Linked DNA regions of Homo sapiens: region 2 is linked to region 1. The links come from fine-mapping of genetic effects on gene expression. A gene starts in region 1. The other region holds a variant in brackets. All regions are shown on one strand. Distances are from middle to middle. Region 1 holds the start of CD40 (CD40 molecule). Region 2 has its middle 31 kb from the start of CD40.

Region 1 (5,256 bases):
CATGATTGGAGGCTGTACTTAGGATGAGAAGTTGCTGAACCCACTCATTCATTTATTCATTCATTCAGCACCCATATATTGGTGTCCTATTATGTACCTAGGACTGGGATAGATCCAGTCCTGCCCTCAGGGAGCTCACAGTCAAATGGGACCAGGCAGAAGGAGTTATGAGCTGGCATGCTAAATGCTGTGGCAACACAGGGGAGGAGGCAGGGTGGGATAGAGTACCTACCTCTGCCTCAGGGAGTTGGGGAAGGTGTAAGAGGAGGCAACATTTAAACTGTTTAAGAAAGGAGAAGGAAAGGAAGGAAACATCAAGAGCAATGAGATAAACCGTAAGGAAAAAAGATTGTGTGCCTGGGAAGTGGGGAGAGGCTGAAGCCAGTGTGCATGGGAGGACGTGGCAGGAAGTAAGCATAGAAAGAGAGGTTGGGGCTGAGTGAGGAAGGGTGTGCTTTGCCAGGATAAGAAATTTGGATCATCCTGAGGGTGCAGGGAAACCCAAAGAGGCTTTTATGCAGGAAAGTGTCCCAGTCGATCAGATCTGGAGTTTATCAAGAGAATCGCAGCAGTGTAAAGAGTTGCCTGGCACATAGTAGGTGCTCAATAAATCCTGTGGAATGAGAGAGGCTGTTGGGACAGTCCAGATGAAAGATGGCACCCTCTGAATTAGGGCAGTGGCAGAGGTGACAGAAAATAAGGGATGGATCCTAGAGGCAGAATCCACAAGACTTGCAAATGTGCCCTTAACAGCAGAAGCCATGAGAATGGGGTTAGAAGTGTCCTCCTCTTCCATCCTCCCTGATCTGTGAGGTCTGGCCTCTTGTCCTCTTCCAGAAATTGAGAGCTTGGAGGGTCATCACCTCAACCGTTGTCTAGTTCAAGCTCCTAAGTTTTCCTTGGAGAAAAATTTAGGCCTAAGGGAACACAGTCCTTCAGAGGCAGAGGCTGCACCAGAACCCAGGTGTTCCATGCTGCAAAGCAGAGTGTTAACACTGGTTCAAGAACATCTTGAGGGCCAGGTGCGGTGGCTCATGCCTGTAATCTCAGCACTTTGGGAGGCCAAGGCAGGCGGATCACCTGAGGTCAGGAGTTTGAGACCAGCCTGGCCAACGTGGAGAAACCCCGTCTCTACTAAAAATACAAAAATTAGCTGGGCGTGGTGGCGCCAGCCTGTAATCCCAGCTACTCGGGAGGCTGAGGCAGGAGAATTGCTTGAACCCAGGAGGCAGAGGTTGCAGTGAGCCGAGATCATGCCACTGCACTCCAGCCTGGGCAACAGAATGAGACTCTGTCAAAAAAAACCCAAAAACCAAAAACCAAACAAACACCCAAAAAACAAAACGAAACAAAAAACAAAAAAACAAAAGCACGTCTTCAGAGTTCATGAACCCAGGAAATGTAGGCACAAGTGTGTGTGTTTCTGCAAAATGAGAGGGTCCCGAGTTTCCTAACATACTTAAAGTGTTTTATGATGCCACAAAAGGCTGGCCCACTCTTTTTTTTTTTTTGAGATGGAGTTTTGCACTGTCGCCCAGGCTGAAGTGCAGTGATGTAATCATTGCAATCATGGCTCACTGCAACCTTGACTTCTTGAGCTCAAGCGATCCTCCTGCCTCAGCCTCCTGAGTAGCTGGGACTACAGGTGTTTGCCACCATGCCTGGCTAACTTAAAAATTTCTTTATTTTGTAGAGATGGGGGTCTTGCCATGTTGCCAGGCTGGTCTTGAACTCCTGGCCTCAAGCAATCTCCCTTTTTGGCCTTCCAAAGTGTTAGATTACAGGCGTAAGCCACCGCGCCTGGCCCCCACCTTTATTTTTATTTTTATTTATTATTTATTTTTTTTTTTTTTGAGACTGAGTCTTGCTCTGCCTTCGAGGCTGGAGTGCAGTGGCACGATCTCGGCTCATTGCAATCTCTGCCTCTGCGGTTCAAGCGATTCTCCTGCCTCAGCCTCCCGAGTAGCTGGGATTACAGGCGAACGCCACTACATCCGGTTAATTTTTGTATTTTTAGTAGAGACGGAGTTTCACTATGTTGGCCAGGTTGGTCTCGAACTCCTGACCTCAAGTGATCTGCCCGCCTCGGCCTCCTAAAGTGCTGGATTACAGGCGTGAGCCACCGCGCCCGGCCCCACTCTTAATAAATGCCTGTCTCCAGGTGCTGGGTGGGAGGTGGGATGGAATGGAATGAGGTGAGGACGCATGGATGCATGGATGAATGGATGGGAAGTTGAGACGACGCGCCCACACGAGGGAATTTCCTTTGAAAGAGAGCGAAATTCTGAGTTGGGAAACTCTTCCTTGAAACGCCTCCCCATACCCCAGCTGTGGCCTTCCCGTTTTCTGCGTGGTGGTGTGGGGGGAACTTCCTCAGGCCTCTCCGCAGTGGAGCCTCTTTCGGTTCTGCCAGGATACCTAGAGGCAGCGGAGAGCGGGGCAGGGAGGGGAAAACCGTGAGGGTCCCTGTGGCAGGCCCCAGCACCCATGGGATCTCTCTCCGGTCGCAGGAAGCAGGCTAGCTCCTAGCCCGCCTCGGCTTGGCCTTTGTGGGACCTGGGGGCAAAGAAGAAGAGCTGTCTCTGGGACCATGCCTCCTCCCGTACACAGCAAGATGCGTCCCTAAACTCCCGGGGGAATTAGACTTGTGGGAATGTTCTGGGGAAACTCCTGCGCGGTGAATTGCTGGGGGCTCCGCCCCCCCGATAGGTGGACCGCGATTGGTCTTTGAAGACCCCGCCCCTTTCCTGGGCGGGGCCAAGGCTGGGGCAGGGGAGTCAGCAGAGGCCTCGCTCGGGCGCCCAGTGGTCCTGCCGCCTGGTCTCACCTCGCTATGGTTCGTCTGCCTCTGCAGTGCGTCCTCTGGGGCTGCTTGCTGACCGCTGTGAGTTGTTTTTGCCCCGACCAGACGGGAGTTGGGAGTGGGGAATGAGAAGGAAAGGGAAGGAAGACTTCGGGGAAGAGGCCTTCCTGGCTGATTTTTGTGGGGGCAGGAGGGTGGGTGGGAGCTGGGCAAGGTGCCCCCGCTCCTGGCTGAATGGGGTGGGCTGCCTCTCTCTTCTCCCGGGCTGGGGTCCCGGGAGCGGCCTACAGGGGCCGCTCAGGGAAGGCACTGGCTGCCCAAGCGTGCCTAGACGGCCTGGACGGGTTTAGGGAGCCTCAGAGGCTGGCCACACAGAGACTGGTAGGGGGTTCAGAGGGCGGGAAGTGAGGCGGACCAAGGGAAGGGGCGGGTCTGGCCCGTTTCCTGTCCCCTTCTTATTGTGGACAGATGCCAGCCTCTGTAAGTAGTTATCATCTCCTTGCCAGCTGGGGCTGCCTTCTTCCAGGGCATCTTGTGGGAACAAGAGATGGGTGCAGAGGCCCAGGTACTTTTGTGAGAAGGCAAGGAGCTTTTAACATCGCCTTCCACCCCGAACCGTATCTTGGGTGTTCCAACCTAGGAGGAATCCCCAGGGCTTTGCCTTTTTCTCCTGAATTTAAGATGACATAGGAGACCCCTGGGGAGATGAACAGTTTATGGGACACAATAAAGGGTTAGGAGACCAGAGTTCTGGTTGGCTCTGACAGGGCTGGTGATCAGAGGGCTGGAGAAACCAGGGGTTTCTCCAGGCACCAGAGGGGCTCAGAGCCAACCAAGCATATCTCCGGGATTTTCAGAAGCCTACACTTGACTCACTTTTTGTTTAAATGTATTTTTGTAGTTCCTCATTCTGGAGGCTGGGAATCCCCCAAGTACCTGGCTCCTTCATCCCAGCCCCTCTGGCCTCCCCCTACTTTAGAGGGCTGTAGATTCCTGCCTGAAGCCTGGGCAGGAATGACCCATGGTATCAAGGAAAGCAAGGGAAGCAGCAAGGGAAGAGAGGGAGTGGGGAGGCTGCTTTGGTCCCACAGCTTTCACTTTCACCTGAAGCAATGGCTCTTAGGGAACAGGGAGGCAGGGGGAGGGCGGAGCTGGAAAGAGGTAAAGGGGGGCCCTTGTGGTAGGAGTGGAGAAAGAGCCAGAGGAGGTGGGGTGAAGGGTGTGATCCAGGCTTCTCAAGAGCAGAGTTTGCCCTCATAACTCCCAACTTTGGCTCCAGGTAGAGGCTGGGCTGTGACAACAATGTCAGAAGCTATCTATTGAGGGCTTCTTGTGTGTCAGGCTCTGAGCCAAACACTGCCTGTTTTCTTTGTCTGATTTCTCACAACTCCCCCATTATACAGATGGGCAAATTGAGGCTCAGAAAGGGGGATTGTCTTGCCAAAGGTCTCATAGCTAGCTAATGGAAGAACCTGGTTGTGAATCTACATCTGCATGATTCCCGAGCCTGCCTCTCAGATAGTGAGAGTCTCCAAGCTCTGGTCCTGAGCTGTTTTGTGGCAGAAGGACCAGAACTATGGGGAGTGAGAACTGGAGATTGACAGACTTTTAGGGGAGCGTTTTATTTCTCATGTGTTTGAAGATGGTATCAAGGACTTTCCTATCTTTGGGAGTGTGGGAGCTCCACGTTCACAGGATGGTGTCTTGCAATGAGCTGGTGGGGGGCAGTAGCCTTTTCTACTTCCTTTCCCATTTTGGGTAAGACACATTTCTGTAAGTAATTTGCTGAGATACCCAGGTTGAATGAGAGCCACCAGTTAGGTAGGATTCTGGACAGCCAGCCAGGTAGCCGGGCTGCTTGCCATATATCATGCAAGCAGAAACAAATGAATGATGATTAAAATTGCCATTTAATGAGCACCTACTATGTTCCTGACACTGTGCTAGGCCATATACATGTATTCTTTCTTATCTTCGTAATCCAACCTGCAGGGCAGGCATTATTACTCCCATTTTAGAGATAGAGAAACTGAGGCTAAGAGAAGCAAAATAACTAGTAAGTGTTACAAAGTCAGGACTGGAGTCTAAAGCTGTCTGACTCTCAAACTTGTGTTCTTTTCACTGGCTGTTCCCAAACTGTGGGACAGTTTTAAGGAGCACATGGACATAGAATTAAACATACACTTACTTTACAGTTCTTTTAAAAATCCTTCTCATTTTTTCAAAGAGGAAGTCTCTGGAGCTAGAATAGAGTTAATGCCTCTCAAAGGCTTGCTAATCCTTCTTTTAAAACAAAAATCAAGAGCAGGCCTGGGAGGGCCTTCAACAAGCAAACAACCAGCTGGGTTTTAATAACCTTGTTTTGTTTCCCCAGAATTTATTTTTAGGGTTACCTTTTATTTATGAGAAGTGATACTGGTTCTTGTCTCTTGGCAATGATGTGAGGTTTACAT
Region 2 (5,482 bases), 31 kb after region 1:
TTTTCTTTGCGCAACGGGTCATTAGCTTGCCAAGCTGAATCCACAGGATTTTGCCTGCCCAGAGGGGGTACCTTTTTCTAATTCACACAGAATGGGCTAGTGGCAGCTCTACAGAGATGAAGATAGTTCAGTTCCTGATCCTCAAGGGCTCTAGGGATAGTGGGGGAGAAAAATATGCCTATGATGTATAAACATTCATGTGTGATTTTTTTTCTTTTTTCTTTTCTTTTTTTTTTGAGGACAGGGTCTCACTGTGTCACCCAGGCTGAGTGCAGTGGCACGATTACGACTTGCTGCAGCCTTGAGACCCCTCTCTCCCCAGCAGCCTCCTGAGGAGCTGGGATTACTGGTGTGCATCACCATGCCTGGCTAATTTTTCATTTTTTGTAGAGACAAGATCTCTCTATGTTACCCAGGCTGGTCTCGAACTCCTGGATGCAAGCAATCCTCCTGCCTCAGCCTCCCAAAGTCCTGGGATTACAAGTGTGAGCTACCATGCCTGGCTTAAACATTCATTCAATAAACATTTCTTGTTTACTGGCCACTAATGTTTGCCAAGCACTGTACTAGATTCTGGGAGAGAGAGAGATGAGTAATATATGTTTCCTGCCCTCCAGAAGCCGGGCTATTTGGGGGAGACAGAGATACTTACCTGGGTCTGCCCTTCCTTTTTCCCCTTCCCTTTTTTAATTCCAAATAATCTTCACCTGGGAGGTATGAATAACCGCTCTGGACTCTCACCATTCAAATCCTGGCTTTACCGTGTCTTGGCTGTGTGACCTTGGGCAAGTTATCTCACCTCTCTCTGCCTCAGGTTGCCTCTCTGTAAACTGGAGATAATGGTAACTGCATCCCAGGGTTATTATAATGATTAAATAAATTAGCACATGGAATTCATGCCTGACACGGAGTGCTCAGTAAAGGTTAGCTATTGTGTGACTGTTTCTTTTTTTTTTTTGAGTGCCTACTGTGTGCCAGGCCCTGAGTCCTGGGGATACAGAACTGTTACCAGTTCATTTCCTCTCCCTTCAGAGCTCACAGTGCGGAACACACAGAGAAACCCACCAACACACAGGCAGGCTCACACATACTCAGGCCTTGCTGAAAGAAAGTTGTGGTGGCAGGGTGTGGTTCTAGAATGAATGAGTCTTAGCTTGGAAGTCAGAAGATTTGGGGTTGTCTTAAGTCCAAGATAGGGAAACGGAATGATTGCCTGGTAAGGTAACGATCTCTACATCACTGGAGGTATGTAAACCAAAGTGTGAAGTTGCCAGAGAGAGGCATCTTGGCTGTGGGAGAAAAGTAGGTCAATTCTGGTACGATCGTCCCCTCCTGGGACAGTGAGACAAGCTTCCCAGGACCAGCTGGGGAGCCCTAGAGAAGCCCGGCACTGGCAATGTCCTGAGAGTCCATTCCTGGAGCCAAGGGACCCAGGCTTCCTACCGTGTATGTCCATTTCCTGGGCAAGGCACTGGATGGCAGGACTTTAAGCAGAGGCAGGAAAGGGCAACTTCCAGCCTCTTGCAGAAGGCCTGATTGCGGGGGCAGTCAGTTGGGATTGCTCAGCCCTGAAGCAGAGACTGAGAACCCCGCCTGCCTGTGTGACCACCATCCATGTCCACTCCCTCTCTGAGCTTCAGTTTCTCCACCGGTAAAATGGGAAGAGAATGGACCAGAGAGTATTTTTCTCCCATTCCCAAATTACAGAGTTTTTTTTTTTTTTTTTAAGACAGGTCTTGCTGTATCACCCAGGCTGGAGTGCAGTGGTGTGATCATAGCTCACTGCAGCCTTGACCTCCTGGACTCAGGTGATCCTCCTGCCTTAGCCTCCCTAGTAACTGGGACTATAGGCACAGGCCACCATGCCTGGCTAATTTTGTATTTTTATTTTTTGGTAGTAACAGAGTCTCCCTGTGTTGTGCAGGCTGGTCTCAAACTCCTGGCCTCAAGCGATCCTCCTGCCTGCCCTCAAGCGATCCTCCTGCCTTGGGATTACAGGTGTGAGCTGCCATGTCCAGTCCACAGACAACATGTATTGAGTGCTCACTACATGCCAAGCACTGGGCTAAGCCTGTTGCATGTAGCATCTTGTTTACATTTCACAATAATCAAGGGGGCAGGCATCTGCCTGCTTTACAGATGAGGAAACCAAGGCCCTCAGCAGTAAAGTAAATTTTCCAAGTTCACTCAGCATGGGAATGATAGACACAGGTTTGTAATCCAGGTCTTGTTGACATCGAAACCTGGGATGCTAGTAACCCTACCCTGCTGCCTGTCAGTCCTGCCAGGCTTTCCAGGACGGCCCCCACCCTGAGCCACATCCCCAGGAACACTCTGCCACTCCCTATCCCCCTCCTGGGCTCATACCATGAAAGCCCCATGCAGAGCCTGCTACTCTAGAGGGATATATATTATCTAAATTTGATAAGACAACTCAATTTCACTCCGTGTCTGTTACCGGCGATAAAACCAGGAGACTTTTATGACCCAGCATCCTCAGCAAGATTGTCAGGAACTTATTATACAAGGTCTAACTGGATTTCTCTCTGCAGATGGCTGGGAGCCATGGGCTGGAACGCAATTCGGCAACACATTTGGGGAAATAAATGCAAAATGCTTGTTCCAGAGACTTAGATAAGGCAGCAGGCCTCCAAGCTCCCCAAGAATCGGATCTGCTTTTCCTGGGCCCTGAAGGGCGATTTGGGGAGGATTTACGCTGTCGGAGGAGGAGGGAATGGCGGGCTCTTTCTCCCCTCATCCCTTGACTCTTCTTGCCCCAGGGAAGGAATGTGAGCGCACCTGAGACTTGGAGTTCAGCAACTGTAATTCCCTGAGAGGTAGCAATTCAGAGTAGACCTGGGGGTGGGAGGACAGGATGGTGGGCAGTGGTGAGACCAAGGTTATGAGGACTGTGTGCATTGAAAGAGGGGTGCAGGATGATCAAAACGATGGGGAACTGGGTCTTCACTAGCTGCTCGGGATCTGCCATAGAGTCACTCCTTACTGCCCTGAGAGGCCCGCGTCCTTCCCAAACACACCTCTAGGACTGGTGTGGCCCCCATAAACTGGGTTCCCAAACAGACCCCATTCCTTGGATGTGAGTTCACATCCAGATTCAGATGACCCCCGTACATAAGCTCACAGATACTCCAAGATTTTGAGGTTCACTGTGAGGGCGCTCCAAATTCATGGCTTACCTCAAATTCTGATCTCTCGCAGGCGTGGGCTCATAGACGGGCTTGCGGTCCATCTCAGCTTTCACAGCATCCATGCGATTTTTGCCATTGGAAGGAATGGCAACAACCACATTCACTTTTGCACCCACCTAATAGATCTGCCGAATCTTGAGGTTGG[A/G]GCTTTACAAGAGCCAGCCCCAAATTCAGGGTTCATTCTCTAGTGCAGACATCCCCCAAACCTCTGCTCACACACAGATCTGGCATAACCCCAGATTCAGTTAGCTGCCCAAGCTAGACTCCAGCCCTCTAGCTACCAGCAGCATCTGAGAGTTACCCCCTCAACAAGCTCATACCAAGCCTTGAGGATCTGGCACCTCCAGTCCCAGGCTCCGGTCCTTGTGCAGGGAAGCTGCTGCAACACCACTGATCTGGGAAGTTTGAGGTCTGCCCTTGCGCACCTGCCCTGTGACTCTAAGCTCTTTCTACGGGGCCAGGAAGGCGGCGGAGACATTTTTATCTGTCCCTGGGCTCCCCGATGCTTCAATGGACTCCAGTACCAGAAGCCCTTTTTTTTTTTGAGTCGGAGTCTCGCTCTGTTGCCCAGGCTGGAGTGCAGCGGCACAATCTTGGCCCACTGCAACCTCCGCCTCCCCGGTTGAAGCGATACCTCCTGCCTCATCCTCCTGGGAAGCTGGGATTACAGGTGCACACCACCACACCTGGCTAATTTTTCTATTTTTAGTAGAGACAGGGTTTCACCATGTTGGCCAGCTGGTCTTGAACTCCTGACCTCAGGTGATCCACCCACCTCGGCCTCCCAAAGTGCTGGGATTACAGGCTTGAGCCACTACGCCTGGCATGGGAGCTTTGTCTCATTCTTTCAGCCCTCCCTTACCTCTTCCCATGTAGAGTTCCATCCCAACTAGGTCCTTTGCCTCCAGTTTTTGGAGGGAAAGGGTAACATTTGCCAAGCATCCTCTGTTGTACCAGGGCCTGGCAAGTCTGTGCTTTCATTGAACTCTTACCACAACCTTTCAGGCTAGATTTTTATAATACCCACTTTGCAGATGAGGAAATGGAGGCACAAGGAGGTTAAGCCACTTGCCCAAGAGCACACAGCCCAGAAGAGTGGGAGCTTTGTATCTGCCAGGATGCTGCCCCAGGTCTTGGAGCAGAGCTTGGGAATGCCCTTGGGATTTGGAGTTCGGTGGCGGGGGTGGGGGGCTGTTGCCTAGGTGGCACGCTGGGGAGGGTATGCTGTTGCTGAATCTAAGCTTGTATTATTTCCACACTGGCAAAACGAATTATTTTCAGTAGACAGGAGGATGGGGTGGGGGTATGGGAGTGGAGGACATTGCGGTGAGACCAAGAGCACTGGCTGCCAGGGCCAGTCACTTGGGGGAAAGGGCAGGGGCTGGCCTTTGCCAGAAGACAGAGATGGATGGTCTGGATCCCAGGCTTAGGTTACCTAAGGGCAGACCAAGACTCAGCTCCTGCATTGGGGGTGGTGGTGGTGGTGTCAGAAATCACTGGAGAAGCCAGGAGGGGGGGCCTACCCCACCTTGGGTGAAGGCCAGGAAGTCTGTGGGGCCTCTGGAATACTAATGGCCTCCGGCGGGTCCTGCAGGATGCAGCAGGCAGGCTGGAGTCTATTTGTCTCTCCATTCTCAACACTGCAGTTTCCTGGAGAGGGGTGATGGGGACCAGGGAGTGAGGACGAGGCTTGGACCAGGGTCTTCGGCTGAACAAGAGCCAGGCTGCAGTGGGAAACACATGCGTGCTGGAACTGGGCTCTACCACTTCCTAGCTGTGTGACCTCAGACAAATCACTTCATCTCTCTGGGCCTCAGGTACGTGTAAACAGGTACAATGATGCTGACCTGAGGGTTGGTGAGGAAGGCGCACAGTGCGTGCTGGCTCAGGAGACGGCGCTCTCTGTTATAAAGCCGTTACCATCCTGCACGTAACAGGCAGGTCCTGAAAATCACCTCCAAGGGGGGTAGAGCCCGAAAATCCCCCAAATCCTCTGGCTAAGAGTGATTTTATTTTATTTTTTAAAAAGAAATAAGGAATATAATCCTCAAAAGATTTTCCCTTTTGGCTCTAAAAAAAAATCTAATATCTTCATTTCCATCCCCCCCTTTATAAGCTAATTTGTTGAAAATTAAAATGGGGAACTCACCAAGGCTGGCATTTTAATTGAATCTTGTCTGGTGTCCTCTCTAGGATTCCCTGGCTGGCGTCCTCCATTCAATCCTCCCTGCTCCATTTAGCCCGGTTCCCAACCTTGGTGGGGCCTCGGCGGG

The links. PIP is the estimated chance that this variant, and not a neighbour inherited with it, causes the effect.
Region 2: its variant is the best candidate, but not a certain one, in a credible set for the expression of CD40 in fibroblasts (GTEx, PIP 0.75).

What each region holds. Positions count from the first base shown.
Region 1 is chr20:46,115,511-46,120,766 of GRCh38, forward strand. CD40 (CD40 molecule) reads left to right here and starts at 2,804. Exons shown (of 9, transcript NM_001250.6): 1 at 2,804-2,884. The coding sequence starts at 2,834. RefSeq lists a cis regulatory region at 1,986-4,083, enhancers at 2,025-2,841, 2,607-2,666, 3,677-4,026, 5,071-5,160 and a silencer at 2,583-2,802.
Region 2 is chr20:46,146,419-46,151,900 of GRCh38, forward strand. No RefSeq gene overlaps it. Among named protein-coding and RNA genes, the nearest start is that of CD40, 31 kb to the left of the region's middle. The variant A/G (reference allele first, on the strand shown) is at 3,355.